5 separate regions of the Homo sapiens genome follow, and regions 1, 2, 4 and 5 are each linked to region 3. Evidence: fine-mapped expression QTL. A gene starts in region 3. Each other region holds a variant in brackets. All regions are shown on one strand. Distances are from middle to middle.

Region 1 (5,000 bases), 21 kb before region 3:
TAACACTGGTGTTTTTTCCTTTGTTTGTTTGTTTGTTTGTTTGTTTGTTTGTTTTTGGGGTTGGTTTTTTTTTCATAGTCTATCTCTGTCACCCAGGCTGGAATGCAGTGGCAGAATCTTGGCTCACTGCAACCTCCACCTCCCAGGTTCAAGCAATTCTCCTGCCTCAGCCTCCTGAGTGGCTGGGATTACAGGCGTGCGCCACCACGCCCTGCTAATTTTTGTATTTTTAGTAGAGACAGGGTTTCACCATGTTGGCCAGGCTGGTCTCAAACTCCTGACCTCAAGTGATCCACCCACCTAGGCCTCCCAAAATGTCTGCCAACACTCTCTGCGCCCAAGGATGATCCTTGCCCCCACTCCTAACCACTAGCCCTACCACCTTTTTCCCTTTACAATAAAGCAGCTCAAAGAAGGGCAATCAGGAACCACCAAGAGCCAGAATAGAAATTGCCAGAAGAGGCCAGGCATGGTGGCTGACACCTGTAATTCTAGAACTTTGCAAGGCCAAGGCAGCAGGATCATTTGAGCCCAGGAGTTCGAGATTAGCCTGGGCAACAACCCTGTCTCTACAAAAAATAAAAATTAGCCCAGCATGGTGATGCACACCTGTAGTCTCAGCTACTCGGGAGGCTGAGGCAAGAGGATCACTTGGGCCCAAGAGGTTGAGGCTGCATTGAGCCATGATTGAACCACTGTACTCCAGCCTAAGTGACAGAGTGAGACTGTCTCTAAAAAAAAAAAAAATTAACAATTGGCCAGGAGCAGTGGCCCACACCTGTAATCCCAACACTTTGGGAGGCTAAGGCAGGCAGATTGCTTGGGGCCAGGAGTTCGAGAGCAGCCTGGGAAACTTGGCAAAACCTCGTCTCTAAAAAAATACAAAAATTAGCCAGGCGTGGTGATACGCCCCTGTAGTCCCAGCTACTCGGGAGACTGAGGCGGGAGGATTGCCTGAGCTGGGGAAGCAGAGGTTGCAGGGTGCTATGATCCTGCCACTGTACCCCAGCCTGGGTGACAGACTTAGATCCAGTCTCCAAAAAAAAAAGAAAGAAAGAAATATGTATATATATTTTTTAAAGGAAATAAAATTGCCAAAAACATGGCCCTGGGAGGAGAGACAAGCCATGCCCTATTCTGGCTGGTGGCATTCATCAGCAGCCCTTGCCATCATAGTGCCCTGGGTCTGCAGGGAGAGACAGCCACGTTGCAAGCATGGGAGAGAAGGCTTCCTGGAGAGGCGAAGTTGGAGAGCATGCCCAGGCACAAGCAAGGGCATGTGTGAAGTCCGAAGGGGAGGGAGGGTGGTTTTTGTGATGAACAAGCAGACGGTGTGCCTGGAAAGACTGTCCAGAGCTCAACCACACAGGGCCTGATGAGCCACATAAACAAATACAAGCGGGATCCCACAGCACAGCGAGCCTTGGGACGGCTTTACTGATTACAACCATGATGAGAGTTGTGTGTCTGCTGCGTGGAGAATGGAGGAGCAAGCGCAAGATCATACAATAAAAGCTACATTGCTAGCTGGCACAGTGGCTCATGCCTGTAATCCTGGCACTTTGGGAGGCCGAGGCAGGAGGATTGCTTAGGCCCAAAAGTTCAAGACCAGCCTGAGCAACATAGTGATATCGCACCTCTAAAATATTTTTTAATTTTAATTTTAAGGCCGGGAGCAATGGCTCATGCCTGTAACCCCAGAACTTTGAGAGGCCGAGGCGAGTGGATTACCTGAGGTCAGGAGTTCAAGACCAGCCTGGCCAACATGGTAAAACCCGGTCTCTACTAAAAATACAAAAATTAGCTGGGCATGGTGGTGCATGCCTGTAATCCCAGCTACTCAGGAGACTGAGATATGAGAATCGCGTGAACCCAGGAGGTAGAGAAGATTGCAGTCAGCCAAGATCGCGCCATCGCACTCCAGCCTGGGCAATGCAGCAAGACTCCATCTCAAAAAATTTTTTTTAATTTTAATTTTAAAAAAGGTACATTGCTACTCCAGCATTTTGGACACGCCCCAACGACCACACTCCTCACACATCATGATTATCCTTTTACCAAGCTGTCCATCTCCTATGATACTGCGTGAGTTCCCCAGGGAAAGAAAACATATTGAATAGACCTTTGGAACTCACCCAGTTGCTTGACACAAAGGAGGAATTCAAACAATGCTGGATCCTGGAATAATACTATATAATTCTCTTGTGGCTTACAGTATATCAGTATATCAAGATCCAGTATGTCATTTAACCTTCAAAACTGTCTGGGAGATGTTCTTAATCCCCATTTTACAGACACAGAAACTGATGGTCCAAGAAGCTAAGTGATTAGTTCAAAGCACACAGCTGGGGGAGTGAGGTTTTATACCTGCAAGTCTAAGGCTCCTCCATACAATCATCCCTGCCCCTTAAGAAAGACTGGTCCCCTGCTCTGCAGAAGGCAGATCCAAGTAGAGCTGTTGGGGTTTTCCCGCTGGACAGGAGAAGCTTCTAGAAAAGGCAGCTCTCCATAACTCCACAGCTATCCTGCCTTCTAAGTCAAGGTGCAGCTCAGCACACAGACATTGATCCAAAAACCCCAACGTTTCAGGACAACCAAGCTAAATCCAAATAAAGCTTAGAAGCTCAAATCAAAAAGCAGGCTGCAGACACAGAGAACGGCCTGGTCCTCAAGCTGCTATGGAGGGAGGGTTTTCCTCCTTTTGTTCAGGTTCATGAGTCGTCATGAGGTACAACCCCTCTCAGAAGAGACATGAATACTGGGGCCAAAAGGGAGGCCCAATTGAGGCAAGGCCGGAACTGAAACTGGGGCCTCCTGGATTTTACATGAATGAGGACAATGAAGGGAAGCCCTTTCTTTCCAC[T/C]GGTCCTCGGGAGATCAGAAGGGGCCACTGAACCAGCAAATACCCTAGGCCTGGGGCTGGGCTGCCAGGGGAGAAGTCAGCTCCCTGGTATCTGCCACACTGCCCAGCCAGGCAGGCACCTGGTGCAGGACTCAGCAGACATGCCCCTCTGGACTGTGGGCCTTTAAGTGGCCCGGAGGCACTGGAGAAAAGCACATGACTAGAGACACCTGCAGAAAACTTCCAGGGGCCCAGAGAACCCAGCACTTCACTGAGCAAAACGCATCTTCCTCGTTCAGACCAGCCCCTCCTGGCACTCCACTGGACCACGCCTGTCTCCCTGGGAAAGAGGCTGGGAATGGGCAGTGGGTTGAAGGAGAGAGGGAGGAAGAAAGGGCATTGGAGAAATCTCTCCTGCCCAGTTGCTCCAGATCTCTGCCAGAAACCCAGGAAGAAAGGCTGACTCTTGGTCTTTGGGGATTTGGCCAAAGTCTGGCCTTTCAACTTTTCTATTTCTGTCCTCCTCTCCACAGCATCTCCAGATCTTTACTCTCCTCCTTCCTTTTCCCCTCTTCCCTCTCTCTCTACACACACACACTCTCACATACACAATCTCTCACACACACACACTCTCACACACTCACACATACACACACAAGTACTTACACACACACACACACACACACACACACACTCACATCTCCATAATCCTGTCCCCTTCTCTTAGGTGCTGCCTCCACATCACCGCTGCTTTACTGCTCCAGCCAAACATCAGTGCCCGAAGAATCCCTCCCCACACTCCATTTGGGAGTTGGGGAGGACACCGCACAGCACCACTTCCAGCTGCTTCCACTGCAAGCCTCGGTCTGTGGACCATCTATCAGAAGACAGAGGTTCCCAGGAGTCATGACAGAAACCCAGGCCCTCAAATGCTCCCTCTCAAACCAGTGTCTGAGACGAATATGTGGGACTCTGGTCAGTCTGGTCAGGCTGGGATGGAAATGGGAAGGCGCCCAGTCCCAGACACCAGACATCAGACACCGAGCTGGGTCCCTCAGACTCTTGCCTGAGAACCCGCATCCAGCCTCCAGGGCCTCTGTCCACCGCTGCCCAGAGTGAAGAGCCCTTCCTATGAGGGTAGCCAGACCGGCTGCACAGGGCGGGCGCTCTTGCTCAAACACTTTCCAGACACTTGTCCTGGATTCTCCTTCTTGTGGACCAAGGGGGCCTTGAAGCTCTCAGCGGCTCCCAAAGTTGGACCCCCGCAGAGCAGGAGGACATGTCATCAGCAGAGAACACACAGCCTCGCCAAGCTTCCCTGGCTCAGAGCCCTCCAACCAAGGAAAGAACTCAATGGCCTAGCACTGCAATCAACTCACAAACATTTCTGTGCCCGACCCCAGCCCCACCTCCTGCTCCCAACAGAACATGCACAAAAAACAAACGCAAGATTGGACATGCCCAAGTGAACAGGCCGGTCGCAGCAGGAGGCACCAGTAACCACTGGTAACCATCCCAGCCATTTTCACCCCACCCCGTGGAAGGGTGCACAGCCATGGAAAATTTCACTCCCTCTCTCATCCACCCTCCCGTGAGGATCGAGAATGCTGCAGAACAGCAGGCGTGACTGAAGCTGCTGACGCAGGCCTTTAAAATGAACTTTCCAAGCAAGGCGCTCCACTTACAAAAGGAAATTGTGGCGTGCACCCTGAAGGGTTAAGAAAGATGTTAGCTTAGGGGAGGACAGAGATTTCAACATCAGAATTCACTTCCCTTTGCTAAGGACACTGACTCAGAGAGAACGGGTCCTGGGTGCTTATTAACATCACAATTAGCAATGGCTCACATGTGCACTGGCCCTTCAGATACAGGACCTTCACATACATTATCCCATTTGAACTGTGTAGAAAGAAGTGAAATGAGCTTGTGGATGCCAAGTGCCACGCAGGAAGCAGGTGCTTTAATGCTAGTTCCCTTTCTCCTGTCACTGCAGCCCAGTGAAGTAGGCAGGAAAGACATCATTATCTCCATTATCTAGGAGAGGAAACAGACCCATGATTCAAGCTAAGTTGGGGAGTTTAGAAATGGCAGCTGGGTCTAGATTCCAGGGCTCGTAACCTCCCATTTGGGGCTTCACCTTAAGCATTTCCATTTTCCT
Region 2 (5,000 bases), 66 kb before region 3:
GCAGCATGGCAAAACACCATCTTTACCAAAAACACAAAAATTAGCCAGATGTAGATGCCCACCTGTAATCCCAGCTACTAGGGAGGCTGAAGCGGGAGGATCGCTTGAGCCTGGGAGGCAGAGGTTGCAGTGAGCCAAGATTGCTCCACTGCACTCCAGCCTGGGTGACAGAGTAAGACCCTGTCTCAAAAAAGGAAACTTTAAAATTCTAAAAATTTTTTTTAAAAAAGTTTAATTTGGATCTGTGTCTGTGTTGTGGTTTGGGGGAAGGTTTAAAGAAGTGGGGCTTTGCTCTGGATTGGATATTGTCAGGAACCAGGGGCAATTCTATGGTTACAGACTGGTCTTATTCTTGTCTAAATCCATCATGGTCCCGGACGGAGTGGCTGTGTCTGATGTTTCTGCTCTGCAATTGTTTGTGGACTCTGTGAAATTGTTTGTGTTCCACAGGAGAACACCAAGGCCTAACTGAGAGTGCCAGGCTGTGCCCACCTGTCAGGGGCTGCTTCTCTCTTTTTCAATTTGTATGAGAGTCATGATTTGCCTTTCTAAAAAAAAAATAATAATAATCTTTTAACAACACAAACCTATGAGCCCTTATTTTATTGCGGGCAGTGGAGTCAGGAAATAGGGAGCTTTTCTTGGCCAGGTCACATACTTCTGTATTGTTAGAATTCTTTTTTATGTATTATTTATTTATTTATTTATTTATTTAGAGATGGAGTCTTGCTCTGTCGCCCAGGCTGTAGTGCAGTGGCGTGATCTCAGCTCACTGCAACCTCCTCCTGGGTTGAAGCGATTCTTCTGCCTCAGTCTCCCGAGTAGCTGGGACTACAGGTGCGCACCACCACGCCTGGCTAATTTGTGTAACTTTAGTAGAGACAGGGTTTCACCATATTGCCCGGGCTGGTCTAGAACTCCTGACCTCATGATCCACCCGCCTCGGCCTCCCAAAGTGCTGGGATTACAGGCGTGAGCCACCACGCCTGGCCTGAATTCTTTACAACAGGCAAATACACTTTTTAGAAGCCCCTAAAACAGTAAAGATTTTAAAAAACATTCTTTTAATAGTTACCTCTCTCCTTTTTATCGCATCCCTTAGTAAGGTGACTACATCGTGGCCCACGCAGTCTGTTGCCTTAAAACCCTTTGTCCACGTGATCAAGATTCCCTACAACATAAAAAGCACCAGGAGAGTCCTGTGTAATTAACCTGGAAGGGGAGAACACAAAATTCCAACCCTCCCTCCTGAGTCAACAACTGCTGAGGGCTTACAACATCGGAGACGGAGTTCAAACATCTGAGGACAAACCAATAAAATATGAATAGACCCTCCTCACCATCCTCATAGGGGTTTGAAATAATCCCACTTCACAGATGGAGCATGAGGCACATTAGGTAAATAGCAATGTCTAAGTTCACTCAGCAGACGGCAAAGACGGCACTCAATACTGGACAAGAGCCCAGATCACCCGATTCCAAGCCTGGTGCTGCCACTGGCATAACCAGCTGTACAGAAGAGTCTACTGACACTATAACTGAAGGATCCTAAGAGTTTAGTAATACTGTGTCTACCTAAAGTACATTTTAGCTTTCACTGGATTGAAGTTAAAACACTTCCTGGGGAAGAAAGTACACTGGGTGTGTGTTGACTATGATGAATCCAAGGTGAAGGTATAAGTGAAATGCTTTAAAAACAAACAAACAGATCTAACTCCTGAGCTCTAAAAGGGTTTCAGAAGAAAAAAGTCCCAAGTCAGCGATGTAACTGGATTAACTGGTTTACAGAGGTAGGTGACCCTACCTAACTCTCCTAGGGCTGCTCATTAAGCCTTAAACCCTGGCCTAAGACCCACCTCCAGAACTCCTGCCTGGTCACGTCTCCACCTGTGACACCCAGAGCTACCTACAGCTCTTCCAGCGTGACAGGCTGGGTCTTGCCTCCGTGACTCTGCACCATTGGTTCCTTCTGCCCAGAATCCACTCCCCAGCCCTGACAGCATGGAGCTGGAGCTGCTGGTGTTAGGGACTCGGCTCCCCCACTAGACTGTGGCCTTCCAAAGGACAGGAGCTGTAACCTTCAGCTCTGAGCCCAGCCAATCAGTAGTCAGCAGGTGCTCAAGCTCTGATCCTGGACCCTGATTCATCTCATATATTGAACAAACATTTATTATCTCCTCTGATTGGACACTGTGCTAGGGCGTGCAGGGATACAGGTCCTTGCTCACGGAGTCTACCACTAGCAGAAACAAAAGACACTAAGAACTAACTGTGTAAGAAGTGTTATAAGCAAGGCAACAATCAAATGAACAGGGGGCACAGAAGAGGATGAGGTTCTTTTTTTGCTTGGAGGACCAGAAGGTTTCCCAGAAAAGGTGACGCTTTCAAAGAGAAAAGAAGAGAGAAGAGTCTCAGTATGCCCTGCAGGCTGTGAAATAAAGCCTGGCTCAACCCACTGTGACTGTGACTGTCATCTAGGAATGACACTGAGGCTGGAGAAGGCCTCAAGGGCCAGCCCACCCAGGCCACAGGGGACTCAGTGCTGCCCGATCACTGAGCCCTAAGAACAGAGACTCACCGCGTCCAGACTCGTCTGCTGGCAGGGAAATGAGAACGTGAAGCCCAGAGGCATCCTGGGGCCTTTGATCCCCATGTAGTCCAAGAAGTCAGAGATGCAGGAGACAATGTGATCAAACAGCTGCAGGGGAAAAGAAAGGATCGCCCGTGCTCTCTGTGGTTTTAATTTTATCAGTGCACATGGACCAAAGTGTGTATACACACACACACGTAGGAAAACACACCCCACACACATGCAGAGTGAGCCTCCTTTTCCAGAATCTTCTCAGCCACCAGAGTGTCACAAGCCAGGCATGGCAAAAAGCATCTGGTGCTTCTGGGCCACAAGGACACAAATCCATGTGGGCA[C/T]CCCGTGGCGGATTTTGGTCATCACGTGACTGCCGGTGCCACTGGCCGTGTGTGCAGTGCACATGCACTATGGTTTTGTAATCTCACCTCTTCCCCAGTGCCCTGCATGATTTCAATAGGAATGGCGTAGATCTTGTTGTGCATTTCCACCGTTCTCTTTTTCCCACTACGGATTTTCACCAGCAGCACACGGAAATTGGTTCCTCCAAGATCCAGGGCCAAGAAGTCACCATTCTCTGTTGCAGTCAAAAGCGTAAAGAATGTCAAAAACAGCTAAGTGCCTCTTGGCAGCCAGTAACCCCAAGACTCCAGACTTTCAAGGGGAGAACCCCATAGCAAACATAGAGGAGAAGCTGCAACTCCTCCCTTTAGGACACAGCACAGACTCAGAGGAAGAGTGGGCACCACATCTCTGACCACCACAGACTTGGAGCCACACTGGGAGGAGAGCATGTGAGTAAACCACCTGTCACAATACACAGACTTCACCAGGGCTGCAACAATGAAAATCTCCTACAAAAAATAATAATTTATGTCAAGGTGTGGGGTATTTGCAAAAACAGCTGCATCATTCCCTTCCCTGCATGTGCAAAATCCTTCTTTGCAACATGACTGCAGTTCCTCCCACTGAAACATGGAGTCAATTTCTCCTCCCCTGGGATCTAGCCCAGCCCTAGGATTGTTCAGGCCAACAGAGTGTGGCAGAGGCAAAGCTGAACCTATCCCCAGCCTGGGCTTCCAGGAGGCTTTGAAGTCTTCCCCTCTCCCTCGCAGCCCTTGCTGCCACCACTTGAACAGCCAGGTGGCCCACTGAAGGATGAGACACAGGGCCAGGGGCCCCTGCACCCCAGCTGACAGCCAACTGCTGGACATGTGGGGAAGGGCGTCTGAGATCTGCCTCCCAGCTGACTCAACAGCTGACTGCAGATGCAGGAATGAGGCCGGCAGAGGTCAGCCAATCCTGGCCCTGATGAGCAGAACTGTCCAACTGACCCACAGATGCATGAACAATAATAAAGCGTGGTTGTTTTAAGCCACTAAGTGTGAGGGTGGCTTATAATGTGGTATTAGGTAACTTACACATAGGACACATTCCTGTCACAAACATTCGTTACTCCAAGGACCCACCTGAAAAGCTCTTCAGATTCCCCATAATGATCAGCTCCAGTGAAAACTACCAAGGTTAGCATAAAGGGTTGGATTTTGTTCTACAATTTGCCTGAATGCGAAACTCCCCAGGCCCTGAATGCCTCATGCATACTCTATCAAGATTTAAGAAGGGTACACTGAGTGTTTATCCTTCTGCTGGCTTTCCTTGGCTTTGGGAAAACCTAATCAGTGCTGTGGGATTTGCCCAGCTTTTAAGAACACTTCTTTTTTATTCATTTAATTTTTTTTGAGACAGGGTCTTGCTATGTTGCCCAGACTGGTCTTGAACTCCTGGGCTCAAGCAGTCCTCCCACCTCAGCCTCTTAAGTAGCTGGATGACAGGCGTGTGTCACCTTGCCCAGCTAAGAGCACTGTTCTGAGCAGGGCTGTGGTTTTAGAGATAGCACTTGCCTGGGAGGTCTGACCAGGAAAATTAAACTGCCCTGAGTCACACACATGACAAATCAGTTAATAAAAATGGAAAACAGAGATGTGAGGGAGTTTCTAGCTCTGGCAAAATCGTGCATCACCAGTGTGAAGGCATCCACTGGCGAATCCAACCTCCCCCACTGCGGCTCAGTTCCTGGCAGGAGCAGGACAGGCATGTCAGCCCCCAGCAGGCCCTCACCGGTCCCGTCGGGAGTTCTCCGGACGAAGGAGGGCAGCATCTTAACCACGGCATTGTTGTGCGTCTGCTTCCTCAGCCCCAGCTCCATCTCGGCCCGCATCCTCTTCTTCACCTCCAGCAGCATGTCCTTGGTGAGGTGGAAATGAGCCAGGGTCTCCTCTATCTGCCGGTGCTGCTCGGCCAAGCGGTAGGCCACCGCCGTCACCATGGCAGCCCCCTTGCCGCTGCCACTCTCCGAGAGGAGGAAGCGCACATCGGAGTCTGGCACCAAGCGCCTTAGAGTCTTGTGGAAACGCCG
Region 3 (5,000 bases):
GTACCCACTATGTCACTGTCCTTAGAAGGCCCAGGCTGGAGTGCGGTGGCGCAATCATAGCCAGGACCACACCCACAGATGGCTGTGCCACACAGTCCACTATGCAAAATGAGTGGACCCCCTGGCAGGAATCCACGTACTCCCCTATAGAAAGCAGCATAGGAAGTCCGTGGTGAAATGCAAGCAAACATCTTGTTTTTAAGAATCTCCTTGACAAATAATATCTGGTGGAAACCTTGGCCTTAAGACCTTCCTCCAGCAAGGTTCTCGGGGAAGAGAAGGGAAGAACATCAGAATCCCAAACTCGGAGTGAGGAGGGATGGAAGGGTCAACTGAATCACACACTCAGGTACCTACGGGGGCCTAGGAGATAGACTGTGCATCCATAGATGTGAATTGAGCCACCCACAGGAGTGGAGAGCTCTGGGCCCACCCTAGACACTGTATGTCTGAGAAAACATGTCCCACTGAATGGAGTCCAAACCTCAGCCCAGCTCAGCTGCTGGAGGCCACCGGCAGCCAACAGCCAGCAGTCTGTTGTGGGTGGTGGTGGGTGTGGACACTGGAGGTTTACAAGGTCACCCAGGCACCCCCCAGCCCAGCAGCCCACTGTCTTGAGCTATAAAGGACACCACGTGCAGGAGGACAGTGAACTCTTGGCTTCAGGAGGCCTGTTCTGGGCACTTCTTGCCATGCCGGGAGAACTGTCTCCCTGGTCCAATGGGAAGAACATCAGTGATGCACAACACCACTAGAGAAAACTCATGAAATGCACACACCCGCACGCACAGCTCCCAGGTCAGTGGCCAGAGGGAAGCTCCAGGGTGCTCCATAGGAGCAAGTGTTTCGAGTGCCACGGTTTGACAACCCCAGAGTGCTTAAAGCCATAAAGAGCAATGGCAGATGGCATTCCCAAGCCTATCTCCTACCTACCTCACTCCCGGTCCCCACCCACCATGGGATCCAAGATCACGGCAGGGTCCCCAGCGGCTTTGTCTCTCAGTACCCACTCCCTCCTGGAAGCTGACCTCCAGGAGGACCCTGGTGAAGTTCCTGGGTGGAGGCACTGGGAGACCTGGATCCCCCTGACTGGCTCTGCCTCTAACTCACTGGGTGACCTTGATAAGGTCGCTGCCCTCAGTAGGCCTGTTTCCTATGGTGCCAGATGAGGGAGTCATCTTAGATGCACAGGAAGAGGATGGAACACCCTATGGCTTGCCGGGCAGAAAATCAAGGCCTGTCACTCCTGCCTTTCACCTGTAGAACTCCACCTGTCTGAACGCCAAAGTCAAGATGACTTTGCCAGTCCATCCCAGCTAACCCCAGCAATAACGTCACCACGTTCAGGGTGGGTGGGCCTGGAGCCTGTACCAGACCTGGCACTGATAAAACGGGCGTCTTTCCCTACAGCTTAGGCTGTTTCTTTAAAATATGGTAGCACAGCTGGCAGAAGAGACAAATACACCTTTAAGACCTGCCAGCGGACAGTATTTTACACTAAGATGTCAAAGGCAACAACACCTCAGGACAGGAGGATGCATGCGTCCAAGTGCTAGAACAAGCATGCCACAGGCGTCCACCCAACTCAAATGACCAGTCGCTTATTTGAGCTCCTGTGCTGGCTAGAAATTACAGCTTAAGAGGAATAAAAAATTCCATTCAGACGTGCCGCTCCAGACACGAGGCCTATGAGCAAAGTTTCCGGTGGCCTCGCCGCCCCTCCCCGTTCCGGGAAGCCGGGCGGGTCACCTCGTCCTCAGATTAACGAGCAGCTCAAACAACTGGGAGAGCCCGGCGACAGCTTCTCCGGGGCACCCGACACCCTCCGCCAGGAACCCCAAATATGGGAGGCCTGGCCTCCAGCCAGCACCCCCGCCTGCTGCTCGATCACCTCCCCAGCATCTCCATGATCACACCTCCTCCCACGGCGCTCGGACCCTCCCGAACAGGCCCTGCGGAAGGGCCCACCGGCCACCTCCCCGCACAGCCCGGGGGCCTATCTGACATCCAGGGCCCGTTTCAAGGACACTGCAGCAGGCAGCCCGGTCTCGGGGGTCTTCCGCCCGATTGCCCCCCTCCCAAAAACGCACACACACAGAGACACTGACAATGCCGGTAGAATCGAAGGCGAAGGCTTTCCTTGCGCCCTGCAGTCCAACTCGATGCTGGCCCGGAGAAGGCCGGGCGCCGGAGGATGGAGGCAGCGGAGGCGGCGAGCGGATGCCGGAACGCAAGGCTGCGGCCAGGACCAGCGGCGGCGCGGGCGGGGGCTCACCTTTTTGACCTGGTCATCCTTCAGCTCCGTGAAGTAATAGGCCAGGAGCTGCGCGGCGATCATGCTGGCGGTCGGGGTCGCGGGGCGGCAGGCGTGGGGACGGTCGGTCCTCCGCAGCCCTGGCGAGCCGTGGTCCTCCGGCGGCTGCTCGGCGGCTCCTCCTCCTCCTCCTCCCCCGGCTCCTCCCCCTCGGCCCGGGGCGCGGCGACAGCTCGCGCGCTCCCGGTCTCCGCGCTCCCGTCCCCTGGAGGGTGACAGCCGCCAGCCGACCCACCTCCTCCACGCCCATTGGTTGCGGCGCGCCTCTGCAACGCCCGGCGGTGGCGTCCCGGCCGGGGAGCGGGGACGCGGCGGCCGCTCCCTCCTGCGCCGGAAAGGGGGCGGGCGACGCAGCGAAATCCCCCCCGACCCCGCATCATCCTGCACGTCCCCCACGTAGGGAGCCGATGCGGGCCTTCACGCGTGGCGGCGCCGTGCCCGGGTGGGCCGTGCCAGGCGGGGAGGTGCGAGGCGCAGGCAGGAGGCACCGCCCGGCTCCGCCGGGACGAGAAGCCCCTAGGGCTAGTCTAGGGACTGGCAGCCCCGGGGGCACGAAGGCGGTCCCATTCCTCGGAAATGAGGGCTCGCCCCTAGGAGTCCGGTGGACGCCGAGGTGCCGGAGGGGACTTGCAGAAGTGGGCGTGGAAAGCGGGCGGAAGCGGGAGCCGGGGACGCTACGCAGTCCTCGCACCCGGGTCCCGCGCCTTCCTCACCCAGGCCGAACGCACCGGCCTACCTGGGTCTTCAGCGGCAGTGCATCACCTCTCCCCGGCGTGCCCCGCCTAATCTCCAGCTGGCAGATTTGTATTGCTGAACCCAAAGCGACACCCCAGAGCACCCGCCCCCGAGTCACCAGCTCCGGTGGCTCTCCCTCAGGGCGCACTCCCTCTGGGCGGGACTTGGGCCACAGGTCGTGGCCTGTCCCCATCCTCTGGGCCTCCTCTTGCTCTTGGGCATCCAGGCCCACTGGGACTTGGGGCACGGTTCAGCGCCCCTTCCCAGGTGCCGTGTTTTCTACTTTCCCAGAGGAAGTTACGTAGGATGGGAGGACTCCCTAGAGGTGCTACCAGGACAGCCACTTTAGGATTCTTAGATTAATTATTTCTGTGTTCCGGAAGCCTCCAGGAGCTTTAGTGCCTTACAAAATGACATGTAATGAGCTCAAATATACAAACAAGTTGTTGCTATTCTGGTTAGACAGGTAAGGAAATTGAAGCTCAGTGAGGCCTCAGTCTTGCTGGACTTTATACAGCCAGGAAGTTGTAGATCTAGGATCACAGCTTGGATCTGTGAGTCTTTGAAGCAGGTGCTCACCTCTAGGGTTTGCTGTGGTCCCAGTTGTATAGAGCCCCTCTGCCTAAATAGGTCACTTTCCTGCAACCAAGTCTGCACCATATGGTGCCCTGAGATCCAACCCCCAACCTCTACCCTAGCTCTTGACTTTAGGAGTCCCTAGCCCTTGACCAGGCCTAGCAAAGGTACAGTCAAATCAGAGGGAGGGATGACGTAGGTTCAGGGGCCTGACAGCCACCATCACCCACAGAAAAGGAGGAGCTTAGATGCAGTCCTGAGGCCCCAGCTTCCTGTCCAGGTCACAGTCCCCACCCCCTGCCTTAGGGCCTATGCAGAGGGGCATCTTGAATCACCTCTGAGACTGTGTCTTCATCCATAAGATGAAGACACTAATGCCCACCTCACCTCCCCTTGATTGTTGTGTAATACTGTACGCAAAATACGTGCACATAATACACACTTAAGGAATGGCAGGTATCATAGAACTGACTGAAAAGTTAATGCGGTTAAAGCTTCAGGGACTCTCACTTTCATTCCTACCCTTCTAGGCCCTGGGAGGGCCTAGCAGTGTGATATTTGTATATTTATATTTGAATTATTTTCCATAGAGAGTGCCAATTTATTTAATTTTCAAGCCCAACAAAACCTGGATTTGCCCTGGATCATAATTATAAACCAGGAAGAGAGAGATTTTCTGGTACACATCAAACATTTGGAACTACCTACATGGCCGTTAAGCAAAATGGAGTGAATGAGAACAAGATGGTTGTTCTCAACTGCCATTTCATTTGAGTTCTGCAGATCTGCCAAGCTCACAGGGCTGGAAACTCCTTGAGGATGGAGGACTATGTTTTGCTAATTGCTCTGTCTCCTACACAAGCGCAGGGCCTGGCACTTGGCAGGCTGAATAAGCCTAATGCATAATCAAAAACATGGCCCTTAACCCAGCCACCAGCCGGTGCCATCACCCATGCCCAACCCGTTGTTACAACTCCTATCTGAGCTGGAGCCAGGGAGAAGCTGACGCTTGGAAGAGCCAGGTTACCCTGAAATGTCCTGTTTGCAGGCAGGAAAGCTGCCTCTGCTTTGTCTTCCCTGGCCTTTGAGAGGGAAACTGCTTCTCAAGGTGACTCATTCCTCCCCACTCCATGAATGCAACCAGGCCCCAAGGCCTGTCAATATTTCCTGAGAAATGTCTCTAGGCCTGACCTATTGCCACCTCCCAACTCCCAGTCCATCTCCCTGTGCCAGAAATATTACAAGAGTCTTCTAACTGTCCTCCTCGGCTCCTGGCCTCATGCCATCCAAGTCATTCTGAGCACCAGGTCACATTAATCCTGCTAAAATGCAGCATAATCATGTCATGACCCTTCCCTAAATCCCTTCATGGCCC
Region 4 (6,350 bases), 78 kb after region 3:
TTAGCCAGGAATGGTGGCCCATGCCCGTAGTCCCAACTCCTCTGGAGACTGAGGTGGGAGGATTGCTTGAGCCTGGAAGGTGGAGGTTGCAGCGAGCCAAGATCGTGCCACCGCACTTCAGCCTGGGCTAGAGAGTGAGACTCCATCTCAAAAAAAAAAAAAAAGGAAAAAGAAAAAAAGAAAGAAAGTTGTGATGGATAGCTAGTCACAACTGGAAAGCCTCCCAGGTAGCCAGGGGACCTGAGTGATTAGGCACTGCCTGGTGCCGATGCCCAGATAACACCAGAAGGGAACTCACAGTTGCTTTCCTGGGTTGAGAGAGCCGAGGTCCAGCTCCCTGTCGAACTCAGTGCGAATGTCCTCCAGGGCCCCGTCGTCCCCGAAGGCCCCCCACTCTGTGTTGATGCACATCCTGCCCTCGTCGCCCTCCACCAGGTCAATGTTGCTCATGTCCTCCATGTAACACGCATTGGTGCCAGTTCCTGAACCAGGGATCAGAGAGAATATGCAGAGAGAGGACTCCCAGCTGGGCACAGACAGAGAACTCTTGACTGCTGGGGAGTCCTCCTCAATGTACCACAAAGTGCTTTTCATTCCCTGGGGGCTGGCTCTCGCTGAGGGAAGCAGCTTGGGCAAGCCCCAAGCACATGGGGAAAACAGCTGACATGTCAAGTCTGCACTTCTCAGGGTGCTCAGGGTTTGCTGTTCTGAATGGAGTCAATTGTGAAGAAGTCCGCTGATGAATATGGATGAAAGCTGACGAAGCGCTCTTACAAGAGGACAAATGAAGATAATCTTGTAAATATTTTTTTCAAAAAATCACCAACCCAGGGTAATTTTGAAAATTCTTTCCTTAAGCTACTTAGCTTCCTCTCTATTTGATACTAAAAATATTCTTTACTTATGGCCTGCCACAAATTGTTTCTAGCATAAGCTGCATCCTTATCTTAGACTGTGATTAGCTACCACCTAAGAAAGCAACATTCCGTTATGCAAACACAAAATCGCTCCAAGGAAATGCCTCAAACACTTGAGCACTGGGGAATGACTGCAAGTGGGCACCATCTTTTTGGACTCTTTTGGGAGGACAGAAATGTTCTAAAATCGGATTGTGGTGATGGTTACAAAACTATACGTTTACTACAAATCATTGAATCGTATACCTAAAATCGGAGGACTTTTATGCCTCAATAAAGCTGTTTGAATTTTCGGGTTTTTTTTTTTTTTTTTTTTTCTTCAGTATCTTCCCTTGGCTGATACTCTGGTATGAGTATTTTAAATGCCAACATGGAAAATGAGAAATGTAGAAAAGCAGAATGTAATATTTGGAAAAAGCTTTTCTCAGAAATGCACGGACACTGTTTAGGCGTGGCCCCCCCAATCTGTGGTTACCAGACGCAGCCACAGTGACAGGCGGGTGCCATGACTGGCAAGGGCCTGAACCATTCTGAGGCTCCTGGAAACAGAAGGGTGGAGGGAGCCCCTCAGGTTTAAAAACCTGCCCTTTGGGAAAGCCAGGCTGAGGAGGGTCTTGAGGGACATTAAGAAAAAGCAATTCAGAAGAACTTTCCCCAGGAGTGGTAAAGGAATGGGAAAAGGAGAAGGGGATATTCAAGAACAACCTATAAGTCAGAGCCATTCAGCTTTACTGTACCCCAAACTGCCTTCCCACACATTCCTCCAGCTGACCCCCTCGCTCTGGTGTGGAGACCACCCACTGGAAACCCCCACTGCACCACGACCTCTCTGGTCCACAGCTGCAGTGCACCTTGCCTGACAGTCCAGTGGTCTCTTGGATGGTCACCCTGCTTCCACTCTTGTCCCCAGTAATCTATTATCCACACAGCAGCCAAAATGGGCTTTTAAAAAATGCACATCCGGCCGGGCGTGGTGGCTCATGGCTGTAATCCCAGCACTTTGGGAGACCAAGGCGGGTGAATCACTTGAGGTCAGGAGCTTGAGAGCAGCCTGGCAAACACTGTGAAACCCCATCTGTACTAAAAATACAAAAAATTGGCCAGCCGTGGTGGTGGGCACCTGTAATCCCAGCTACTCAGGAGGCTGAGGCAGGAGAATTGCTTGAGCCTGGGAGGCAGAGGTTGCAGTAAGCCAAGACTGTGCCACTGCACTCCAGCCTGGACGACAGAGCAAGACTCCGTCTCAAATAAAAAAATAAAATAAAATGCGCATCCATTTATCCATCCCCCACCCAGAGTCCCCCAGTGCCTTCCAGTCTCCCTCAGGGGATAAGCCGGTGACCTTACAGTGACTGTGTGCACATCCTGTGCAATCTGCCCAGTCTGTCCTCT[G/C]CCTCTCACTTGAATGGCCTCCGACTCTCAGCCTTCACTCACCTCATCCGGACACCACTCGGCTATAGGGTTCCCCCAGTGCCCCCTCCCTGGACCCCTTCCCATCTCCAAGCCTGTAGGTGTCCTCTTTCCTTTGGCAGGGACTCCCTACCCTCGGGCCTCCACCTTGCTCCCTGGTTTGCATCACTGAGGTCCCGGCTCAAATGCCACCCCTCAGAGAGGCTTCCCTGACGCCTCATCCCACTCACAGTCACATCACTCTCTTTGTTTTTTGTTTTTTGTTTTTTTATCACGCTAACCACCACCTGAAATTATCTTAATAGCCTAGGCCTTCTGGGCCTCTCACCCACCTCCCCACTGAAAGTTCCAGGAGCACAGGAACTCCCCACTCCAAACCCAGTGCCAAGCCCAGGGGCCGGCACACAATGGGTGCTCAGTAAACACTTGTCGAATGGATGAATGAATGAATTTTTCATGTCCCTATGTTGCTTCTCCTAAATAGTGCAGTGCCCTTCCCGCCGAATTCACTCAGAGCTCGCTGAAATGAAACTCCCAAACAGTCCCTTCTCCCCTACCCTCAAAAAACCAGTCCAATTGAGTTACCGATGATGACACCAACTTCGCAGTAGGGGTCGTCATAGGCACAGGTCATCATGGTCCCCACGGTGTCATTGACCAGGGCCAGGATGTCCACGTCCATGTCCTGCCGAACACAAGGCCAGAGGGAATCAGCGGGTGGGAAGGAGGTGTTTCCCTCCCTCCTTCCCCACAGAGGCAGCAGGTAGTGAAGGTGGCTGCTGAGACATCCCTAGATCCTGCCTGCTGGGCCTGTCTGAAGGAGCAAGGCCTCATCAAGGTTCAGGGTCTAGGGGAGAGAAAGAGCCGACAGGAGCTGAAGAGGGGAGCCCATCCTCTTGCTTTGTGGGTGAAGGCCTCTGCAATGGAAATATGAGGGACAGGCCACCGGGACTCCAGCCCTTGTTTTTTGTTGTCGATGTTTTTTTTAATTTAAAAAATTTTATTTTTTAATCTGCAGATAGGGTCTCACTATGTTGCCCAGGCTAGAGTGTGATGGCTGTTCACAGGTACAAACATAGCACACCACAGCCTCAAACTCCTGGGCTCACGTGATCCTCCTGCCTCAGCCTCCTGAGTAGCTGAGACTACAGGCACACATCACACCCAGGTTTCAGCCTTTGTTTGTGAGATCCTGGGAAGACATTGAGGAAAGCATGTTTATCCAGTGGCATTTCCAGGAGAAAACACCAAAGTCCTCACCCACGGGGACAACTCAGCCAGCAGGCACAGACTCGGCCAAGTCTTCCCCATGTATGGCATGGTGACTTCCTGTCTGGATTTCCTGTTCTGCCAAGTCAGCTTGGGTTATTGCACCAACATCCCCCAAAGTTTGGAAGAACATTTTAAAGTAAAATGAGAGCCAGGCATGTGGCTTATGCCTATAGTCCCAGCTATGCAGGAGGCTGAGGTGGGAGGATCATTTGAGCCTAGGAATTCGAGGATGGAGTGCCAGGCACTGCCAGCCTGGGCAACACAGCAGGACCTCATCTCTAAAAAAAAAAAAAAAAAAGTAAAATGAAAACAATAAGGGAAAATGCAGGCTATAAAACAATAAGATCCCAGCTTTAAAGAAAAAAAGGCTGGAAGGCTATGCAGCAAACATGCCTCTTGCTGTCAGGGCAACAAGCAATTTGGGTTTGTGTACTTTCCAGCTCAGCAAGGAGCGAGTCTTGCTTTCGCAGTAGTTTAAATTATTGTAAAATACGTTCAACAAATAGGGATATTTAATGGACAGGGAGTGGACAGTGAAATAGAGAACCAGCCCAGAAAGAATATGGAACCAGCCCGGAAAGTATATGATCTTTTCAGCCTCAGAGAGGAGGGCGTGTGGGGCCTACACACAGCATCAGATCTAACCAAGACCTCCGGAGAGGGCTGTGGCTGCTGGGGAGGCCCAGGGATGAGCTGGCCACCTTTCAATAGGGATTGGTGCAAGCCCCGCCTACCAAGGCTCTGTGGGTTCATCCAAGTTGGCCACATCTGTACTACAGTGGGACCTTTTCTAAGATCAATTCCTTCTCTGATTCTCCCTCCATGCAGGCACCATATGTGACCCCCTCACCTCACCCCCAGCCCCACCAACCCAAGAGAAAGGAGCTAGGGCTGGGAGAGCCTCCCACACCGAGGTGAATTCCTCACCTTGTGTCTTCTCATGGCTTTGGTCAGACGGCTCACCACATCCGTGTCCTGAACTCCTCGTGCCTTAAACTTTTTTGTCCACGAAAGTAGGACACCCTGGGAGAAGATTTCAGGTCCAGTTTGAATGAAAGACGTGCTGAGATGTGCAACTGAGCCGCAGAAACTTCATGCCTACGTGCATCCCCCATGGCCTTCTCTTCTCTAAGCTGAATCACCCCAATTTTTTTAAAACATTGCTTCTGCAGCCTTTTCTAATAATTTAAAGGACTATTACTCTCATCTGAGTGGTTTGAAATATATGGTAGCAGAAGGAGTAATTATTGAAAAGTTAGAGCTCTTGGATTCATGAGACATTAGACAAGTCGTTTAACCTCTCTGAGCCTCAGTCTACTCCTCTGCAAAGTGGAAATGTCACCTCCCTACCTCTCTCAAAGGAATGCTCTAATGAAAATACCTGGTGTAGGCCGGGCGCGGTGGCTCACGCCTGTAATCCCAGCACTTTGGGAGGCCGAGGCGGGTGGATCATGAGGTCAGGAGATCGAGACCATCCTGGCTAACAAGGTGAAACCCCGTCTCTACTAAAAATACAAAAAATTAGCCGGGCGCGGTGGCGGGCGCCTGTAGTCCCAGCTACTCGGGAGGCTGAGGCAGGAGAATGGCGTGAACCCGGGAAGCGGAGCTTGCAGTGAGCCGAGATTGCGCCACTGCAGTCCGCAGTCCGGCCTGGGCGACAGAGCGAGACTCCGTCTCAAAAAAAAAAAAAAAAAAAGAAAATACCTGGTGTATTATACATGCAGAATGCATGGTTTGCCAGGTCCACAAAACAGAACTAACATGGTGTAACCTTGCAGGATTGTCTCAGGAACTTCATTTCAACTTAGAAAAATGATTCCCAACCAGGCAGAGTGGCCCGTACCTGTAGTCCCAGCTACTTGGGAGCCTGAGGCAGGTGGATCACTTGAGGCCAGGAGTTCCAGGCCTGCCTGGGCAACATAGCGAGACCTCGTCTCTTAATAAAGAGAAAGAAAGAAAAATGGTTCTCAATTTGCATTACCAATCATTGCTTACAAATGGTGTTTCCTGAGTTTCGTGTCTGAAATCGCAAATAATCATAGAATGTTTCAGACTGGAAGAGAACTTGGAAGTTAAAAGAGAATCGCCCAAGTCGTCTCAGTCAAGAGCAGCTGACCCAGGCTCACAAACTTCCTGACCGCACCTCCTCCATTTCCCTCAATTTATGGATTTAAAAACGCTGGGATTGAGAGAGGGAGGAAATTGCTCTGAATTTCACCGCGAGTGAAGGATAGAGCCCAAGCCGAATGCAGGTCTCTGACTCTGGACCAGCCCTCGGGCTTTTTTCCTGCACCACAGCGCCGCCGTGTGGCAGCTCTCCCTAACTTCTGCTCTCATAGGCTATGACAACATCCCTGTCTCCAGGGACAGAGCGGGGAGAGATGCACAGGCTGGCTTTCTTCAAAAATCCCTGTTGCAGGGAAGGTGGATGGGGGAAGTGAGGGATAAATGCTTGCGATAGAATGTTAAATTAAAAAGGCAATTACATACAACTGTACATTTTCTTTTTGTCTCAAATATTTGGTGACTAGAATCAACCATAGATTTGCTAAACTGTAGATACAGGATAACACTTGTATTTAATATAGGTATGAGTAAAAGAAAAACCCACAATTCTAGTGGTGGGAATATTTGAATATTGAGATGAGTGGTGATTTCTATTTTCTTCTTTAAACTTTTCCATTCCTTCTCTCTCTCTTTTTTTAAACCTTGAAAAAAGTATTACCATTTATTTTATTATCAGAAAACACA
Region 5 (6,418 bases), 35 kb before region 3:
GCTGGTCTCGAACTCCTGACCTTGTGATCCGCCTGCGTCGGCCTCCCAAAGTGTTGGGATCACAGGCGTGAGCCACCGCACCCGGCCTCATTTGTCTTTTATGTGTTGAGTTGTAAAAGTTCTTTTTATGTTCTAGATACAAATCCTTTATCAGACATATGACTGGCAAATATTTTCTCCCATTCAGTGGATTGTCTTTTCTTTTTTTTATGGTATCCTTTGATGCAGTAACATTTTATGTTTGTTGTTGTTGTGTTTGAGACAGGGTCTTGCTCTGTTGCCCAGGCTGGAGTACAATGGTGCAATCATGGCTCACTGCACCCTTGACCTCCTGGACTCAAGAAATCCTCCAGCCTCAGCCTCCCAAGTAGCTGGAACTACAGGCATACGACCACACCTGGCTAATTTTTAATTTTTTTTAGAGACAAGGTCTCACTATGTTGCCCAGGCTGTCTCAAATGCCTTCGCTCAAGTGATCCTCTTGCTTGGCCTCCCAAAGTGCTGGGATTACAGGCATGAGCCACCAAGCATGGCCAAGTTTTAAATTTTGATGAAGTCCAGTTTTACGTTTTTTCTTTTATTGTTTGTGCTTTTGGAGTTGTAGCTAAGACTCTATTGCCAAATCCAAGGTCACAAAGATTCAAACCTGTATTTCGTTCTAAGAGTTTTATTAGTTTTAGCTCCCACATTTAGGTATTTGATCCATTTCAAGTTAATTTTATATATGGTATGAGGTGTAGGTCAAACTTCATTCTTTTGCATGTGGATATCCAGTGTCCCAGCACCATTTGCTGAAAAGACTATTCTTTCCCTCATTGAATAGTCCTAGCATTCTTGTCAAAAGTCAATTGACCGTAATGTATGCATTTATTTTTTTTTTCGAGACAAAGTCTCACTCTGTTACCCAGGCTGGAATGCTACCCAGGCTGGAATGCAGTGGCATGATCTCGGCTCACTGCAACCTCCACCTCCCGGGTTCAGGCAATTCTCATGCCTCAGCCTCCCAAGTAGCTAGGATTACAGGCGTGTGCCACCACAACTGGCTAATTTTTTTGTATTTTTAGTAGAGACGGGGTTTCACCATGTTGGCCACGCTGGTCTCAAACTCCTGACCTCAGGTGATCCACCAGCCTCGGCCTCCCAAAGTGCTAGGATTACAGGCATGAGCCACCACACTCAGCCTGTATGCATTTATTTCTGAACTCTCTATTCTGTTCCATTAGTCTGCATGTCTACCTTCATGCCAGTACCACATGTCTTGATTACTGTTGCTTTGCTGAAAATTTTGAAATTGGCAGTGAAATTCCTTCAGCTTTGTTCTTCTTTTTCATGATTGCTTTGGTTATTCTGGGTCCCTTGAGCTTTTGATTTTCAACACAAAATAAGGTTTGCTTTCTGTTTTTAACAATAAAGCTGACTTATCTTTGTATTTGATTCTACCAAGCTATAAGCCCTGACACACTGCTATATTTCTGGAACTTACAATGGTGTTTGGAATGTAGGTAAAAACTGAGCAAATACTTGTGGAATTAATGAAGGTATAAAGAAATAAACAACAAACCAAGGAATTCTCACATTGAATGTCACTGTTCCTATCTTTTTTTTTTTTTTTTTTTTTTTTGAGAGGGAGTCTTCCTCCATTGCCCAGGCTGGAGTGCAATGGCGTGATCTTGGCTCATTGCAACCTCTGCCTCCCAGGTTCAAGTGATTCTCCTGCCTCAGCCTCCCGAGTACCTAGGATTACAGGTGTCCACCACCATGCTTGGCTAATTTTTGTATTTTGTAGTAGAGATGGGTTTTCACCATGTTGGTCAGGCTGGTCTCAAACTCCTGACCACAGGTGATCCACCTGCCTTGGCCTCCCAAAGTGCTAGGATTACAGGCATGAGCCACTGCGCCCAGCCTGTTCCTATCTTCGTTCTCAAGTTCCTTGAGGGAAAGACCACAACTTGGGATTCTCTGTCCTTGGCACCCAGGACAGCTCAGCAAATGCTCATTAGCTGCCTGGTCACAGGGACTGGTGGTCCATTCATTCATTCAAGGCACCTGATATGGTTAGGCTTTGTGTCCCCACCCAAATCTCATCTTGAGTTGTAACCCCCACAATGCCCACATATCAAGAAAGAGACCAGGT[G/A]GAGGTAACTGAATCATGGAGGTGGTTCCCCCCATGCTGTTCTCGTGATAGTGAGTGGGTTCTCATGAGACCTTATGGTTTTATAAGGAGCTCTTCCCCCTTCGCTCAGCACTTCTCCTTCCTGCCGCTTTGTGAGGAAGATGCCTTTTCTCCTTCCACCATGATTGTAAGTTTCCTGAGGCCTCCCCAGCCATGCTGAACTGTGAGTCAACTAAACTTCTTTCCTTTATAAATTACCCAGTCTTAGGCAGTTCTTTTTAACAGTATGAAAACGGACTAATACAGCACCCCTGCTTGCTGTTTATTAAGCACAAAGCAGTTACGCCATCATGTGAGACACACACAGAGGAAAAACCAGAGTATGTTTTTCCTTTTCTCTACTCACCACAACACAGAACACACCTGTGACCCTGGATGCATGTGGGTTTTTCCCCACACACCAAGCAAGTAATTCTGCAGTGAATTCTCCAGTGAACACCAGCTCCATGCTCTCTAATTCAATTCAATTATTTCACTAGCTACCTGGAGATAGCATCATATCCCACAGGTCGAGGGCTCGTTCACACGAGGCTGCCCTCCCTCCAACTTCAGACACCAGTCACAAGCACAGGTTGTGGCCTGTGCTTCTGGCTGATCACTATAAATCGGGGTTCCTACAACCCCCTCCTTGGGTTGCATTAGTTTGCTACGGCAGCTCACAGACCCAGAAAAAACACTTCACTTACATTTACATATTTACTATAAAGGATATTACAATAAATACAGATGAAGAACTGGATGGAAGAGATACACAGGGAGGGGCATGGGAGAAAGGGCAGGAGTTTCCATGCCCCCTCCAGATGTGCCACCCAGGAACCTCCATGTGTTCAGCTAGACAGAAGCTACCAGAACTCAGTCATTCTAGGTTTTCTTCTTTTTGCTTTTTTTTTTTTTTTTTGGTTTTGTTTGTTTGTTCTTTGAGTCAGGGTCACACTCTGTCACCCAGGCTGGAGTGCAGTGCAGTTGCATGATCACAGCTTACTGCAGCCTCAACCTCCAGAGCCCAAGCGATCCTCCCACCTCAACCTCCCGAGTAGCTGGAACTACCGGCACGTGCCACCACATCTGGCTAACTTTTTTTTGTATTTTGTGTAGTGACAGGGTTTTACCATGTTGCCCAAGCTAGTCTCAAACTCTTAGGCTCAAGCGATCCACCCACCTGGGCCTCCCAAAATGCTGGGATTACAGGCGTGAGCCATCATACCTGGCCTGTTTTAGGTTTTTGTGGAAGCACCATTACACAGTTGCGATTGATTAAATCATCGACCATTGGTTTATTCGCTCTATTTTCAGGCTCTCTCCCTCCCTGGAGGCGGCATGGGGGTTGGGGCTGACAGCAACCCTCTGATCACATGGTTGGTTCCCCCTGGCAACCAGCCCCCCATCCTGAGGCTATCCAGGGTCCCACCAAGGAACAAAAGAGACTCTCCTATCACCCAAGAAATTCCAAGGGATTTAGGAGCTCTGAGTCAGGACCAGGATCAAAGATTCTCCTAGCACCTGTATTGCTCAAGAAATTACAAGGGTTTTAGAAGCTAAATGCTAGAGACTAGGGGCAGAGACCAACATGTATATTTCTTATTATTTCACATATTGGTTGGTTGTTTTTTTAATAACAGTTTTATTGAGATATAATAATATAGCATACAATTTTTACCCATTTTAAAGTGAAAAATTCAGTGGTTTTCAGCATATTTACAGAGTTGTGCAACCATCACCACTATCTAATTTTAGAAAATTTTCATCATCCCAAAAGAAATTCCATACCCATTAACAACCATTCACCATTTCCTCCCAACCTCCCTATCTCCCAGCAACCACTAATGTACTTTCTGCTCTACAGATGCCCCTATTCCAGACATTTCATATAAGTGGAATTGTATAATATTAGGTCCTTTGTGTCTGGCTTCTTTCACCCGGCATAAGGTTTTCAAGGCTCATCCATGCTGTAGCGTGGATCAGTACCTCATTCCTTTTTATGAACCGATTATATTCCATTATATGTATATATCACATGAAGCCACTGGTTTTAAATTATTTGTGGTCCAAAGGAAAGAGAGAGAACAAGGGAGAATGCTGGGAAGCAGGTGTCATAGATTTGGTGGAAATTCTGACCCCGACTTTGTGGCATTGTTCAAATCAATATAGAATTTTCTTTGGGCTCCCATTGGAGTCCTAACTCCAACAGTACTTTACACCACCACTAGGTTAAAAAATTGAATTCAGCCGGGCGCAGTGGCTCATGCTTGTAATCCCAGAACTTTGGGAGGCTGAGGCGGGTGGATCACTTGAGGTCAGGAGTTCGAGACCAGCCTGGCCAACATGGAGAAACCCTGTCTCTACTAAAAATACAAAAATTAGCTGGGTGTAGTGGTAGGTGCCTGTAATCCCAGCTACTCAGGAGGCTGAGGCAGGAGAATCGCTTGAACCCAGGAGGCGGAGGTTGTAGTGAGCCGAGATCATGCCACTGCACTCCAGCCTGGGCAACAGAGCAAGACTCTGTCTCAAAAAAAAAAAAAAATTGAAATAACTGAAAAAATTGAATTCAGTATGAAGTAGCTCCTCGCAGGTGAGTCACTAGAATATCAGAAACATTTTATTTGACCATCCATCAGCTAACATTCACTGAGTCTTTCTGTACCAATCACTAAGTGCTTATACGTATCCTTTTATTTTCAATCTTCACAACCCTATGAAGTCAGTACTGTCAGGATGCCCATTCTACAGATGAGCAAGTAAAGGTAAAGAGGGGTTAGATAACTTGCCCAAACGCACAACCAGTAAGTGGCAGAGTCAGCATTTGAATCCGAAGCCATAATGTATAACCATGAAAACTGCCTCCTGGACAGAACTCAGGGACAAGGATCCCCAAGGAAAGTGGGGGCCAGAGAGAGACTTCAGCACATCAGGAATGGCTACACTTCTTTTCTGGGGCTCTTCAACTTCCATGATTCCTTATAGCTTTGGGTTTTTTTGTTTTGTTTTTTTTGTTTTTGTTTTTGTTTTTGAGACGGAGTCTCACTCTTGTTGCCCAGGCTGGACGGCAATGGCGCGATCTCGGCTCACTGCAACCTCCGCCTCCGGGGTTCAAGCGATTCTCTTGCCTCAGCCTCCCCAGTAGCTGGGATTACAGCCACCCACCACCACGCCCAGCTCATTTTTTGTATTTTTAGTAGAGACGAGGTTTCACCACCTTGGCCAGGTTGGTCTCAAACTCCTGACCTCAGATGATCCGACTGCCCTGGCCTCCCAAAGTGCTGGGATTATAGGCGTGAGCCACCGTGCCTGGCCTAGCTTTGGTTTTATTTATTTATTTATTTATTTATTTATTTATTTAATTTTGAGACGGAGTCTCGCTCTGTCGCCCAGGCTGGAGTGCAGTGGCGTGATCTTGGCTCACTGCAAGCTCCACCTCCCAGGTTCACATCATTCTCCTGCCTCAGCCTCCCAAGTAGCTGGGACTACAGGAGCCCGCCACCACGCCCAGCTAATTTTTTTTTTTTTTTTTTTAGTAGAGACGGGGTTTCACTGTGTTAGCCAGGATGGTCTCGATCTCCTGACCTCGTGATCCGCCTGCCTTGGCCTCCCAAAGTGCTGGGATTACAGGCGTGAGCCACGGCGCCCGGCCAGCTTTGGTTTTATTTTGCTTCATTCTCTAATGAAGACAGTGAAAGCTCAGTCTGATAAACAACTATAAACCACTTGTGCATAGGGGGAAAAGGGGCACAAAAGCAAATACTACACTGAGATGAAATGATCGGTACTTTTTATTTTAATATTTTACTTAATTAATTTGCTGTTTTAATGTTCACCTAAACATTTATTTATTTCATGTTTTTGTTTGTTTGTTTTTTTGAGATGGAGTCTCACACTGTTGCCCGGGCTGGAGTGCAATGGCGCAATCTTGGTTCACTGCAACCTCCAACTCCCGGGTTCAAGCAATTCTCCTGCCTCAGCCTCCCGAGTAGCTGGGTCTACAGGCATGCACCACCACGCCCAACTAATTTTTGTATTTTTTAGTAGAGACGGAGTTTCACCATTTTGGCCAGGATGGTCTCGATCTCTTGACCTTGTGATCCGCCCACCTCGGCCTCCCAAAGTGCTGGTCCTATACGCTGCCGGGCAAAAGACACTGAGGAATGATGTCTGTTAAGGACAACAAGATAACTGATAAACTTTCCTGGATGTCCAGCATCTCTTTAGATAACTACCCTCCCATTTTTCACCTATGAGGTTGGAAGTGGG

Evidence for each region. PIP is the estimated chance that this variant, and not a neighbour inherited with it, causes the effect.
Region 1: its variant is fine-mapped to the expression of HK1 in whole blood (TOPMed, PIP 0.98).
Region 2: its variant is fine-mapped to the expression of HK1 in whole blood (INTERVAL, PIP above 0.99). The same link has a PIP of 0.9 or more in blood mononuclear cells.
Region 4: its variant is fine-mapped to the expression of HK1 in whole blood (INTERVAL, PIP 0.97).
Region 5: its variant is fine-mapped to the expression of HK1 in whole blood (TOPMed, PIP above 0.99).

The regions. Positions count from the first base shown.
Region 1 is chr10:69,337,217-69,342,216 of GRCh38, reverse strand. The region is part of intron 1 of HK1 (hexokinase 1); the gene reads right to left. Among named protein-coding and RNA genes, the nearest start is that of HK1, 21 kb to the right of the region's middle. RefSeq lists enhancers at 2,389-3,074, 3,763-4,448, 4,449-5,000. The variant T/C (reference allele first, on the strand shown) is at 2,864.
Region 2 is chr10:69,382,494-69,387,493 of GRCh38, reverse strand. HK1 (hexokinase 1) reads right to left here. Exons shown (of 18, transcript NM_000188.3): 10 at 4,703-5,000; 11 at 3,013-3,161; 12 at 2,579-2,698; 13 at 1,076-1,171. Among named protein-coding and RNA genes, the nearest start is that of TACR2, 32 kb to the left of the region's middle. The variant C/T (reference allele first, on the strand shown) is at 2,926.
Region 3 is chr10:69,316,286-69,321,285 of GRCh38, reverse strand. It overlaps HK1 (hexokinase 1), which reads right to left and starts at 2,439. Exons shown (of 18, transcript NM_000188.3): 1 at 2,276-2,439. The coding sequence starts at 2,338. RefSeq lists enhancers at 1-270, 1,856-1,905, 3,196-3,425 and a silencer at 2,206-2,885.
Region 4 is chr10:69,237,314-69,243,663 of GRCh38, reverse strand. HKDC1 (hexokinase domain containing 1) reads right to left here. Exons shown (of 18, transcript NM_025130.4): 5 at 4,527-4,622; 6 at 2,913-3,012; 7 at 299-482. Among named protein-coding and RNA genes, the nearest start is that of HKDC1, 20 kb to the right of the region's middle. The variant G/C (reference allele first, on the strand shown) is at 2,310.
Region 5 is chr10:69,350,272-69,356,689 of GRCh38, reverse strand. All of the region lies in intron 2 of HK1 (hexokinase 1), which reads right to left. Among named protein-coding and RNA genes, the nearest start is that of HK1, 35 kb to the right of the region's middle. The variant G/A (reference allele first, on the strand shown) is at 2,135.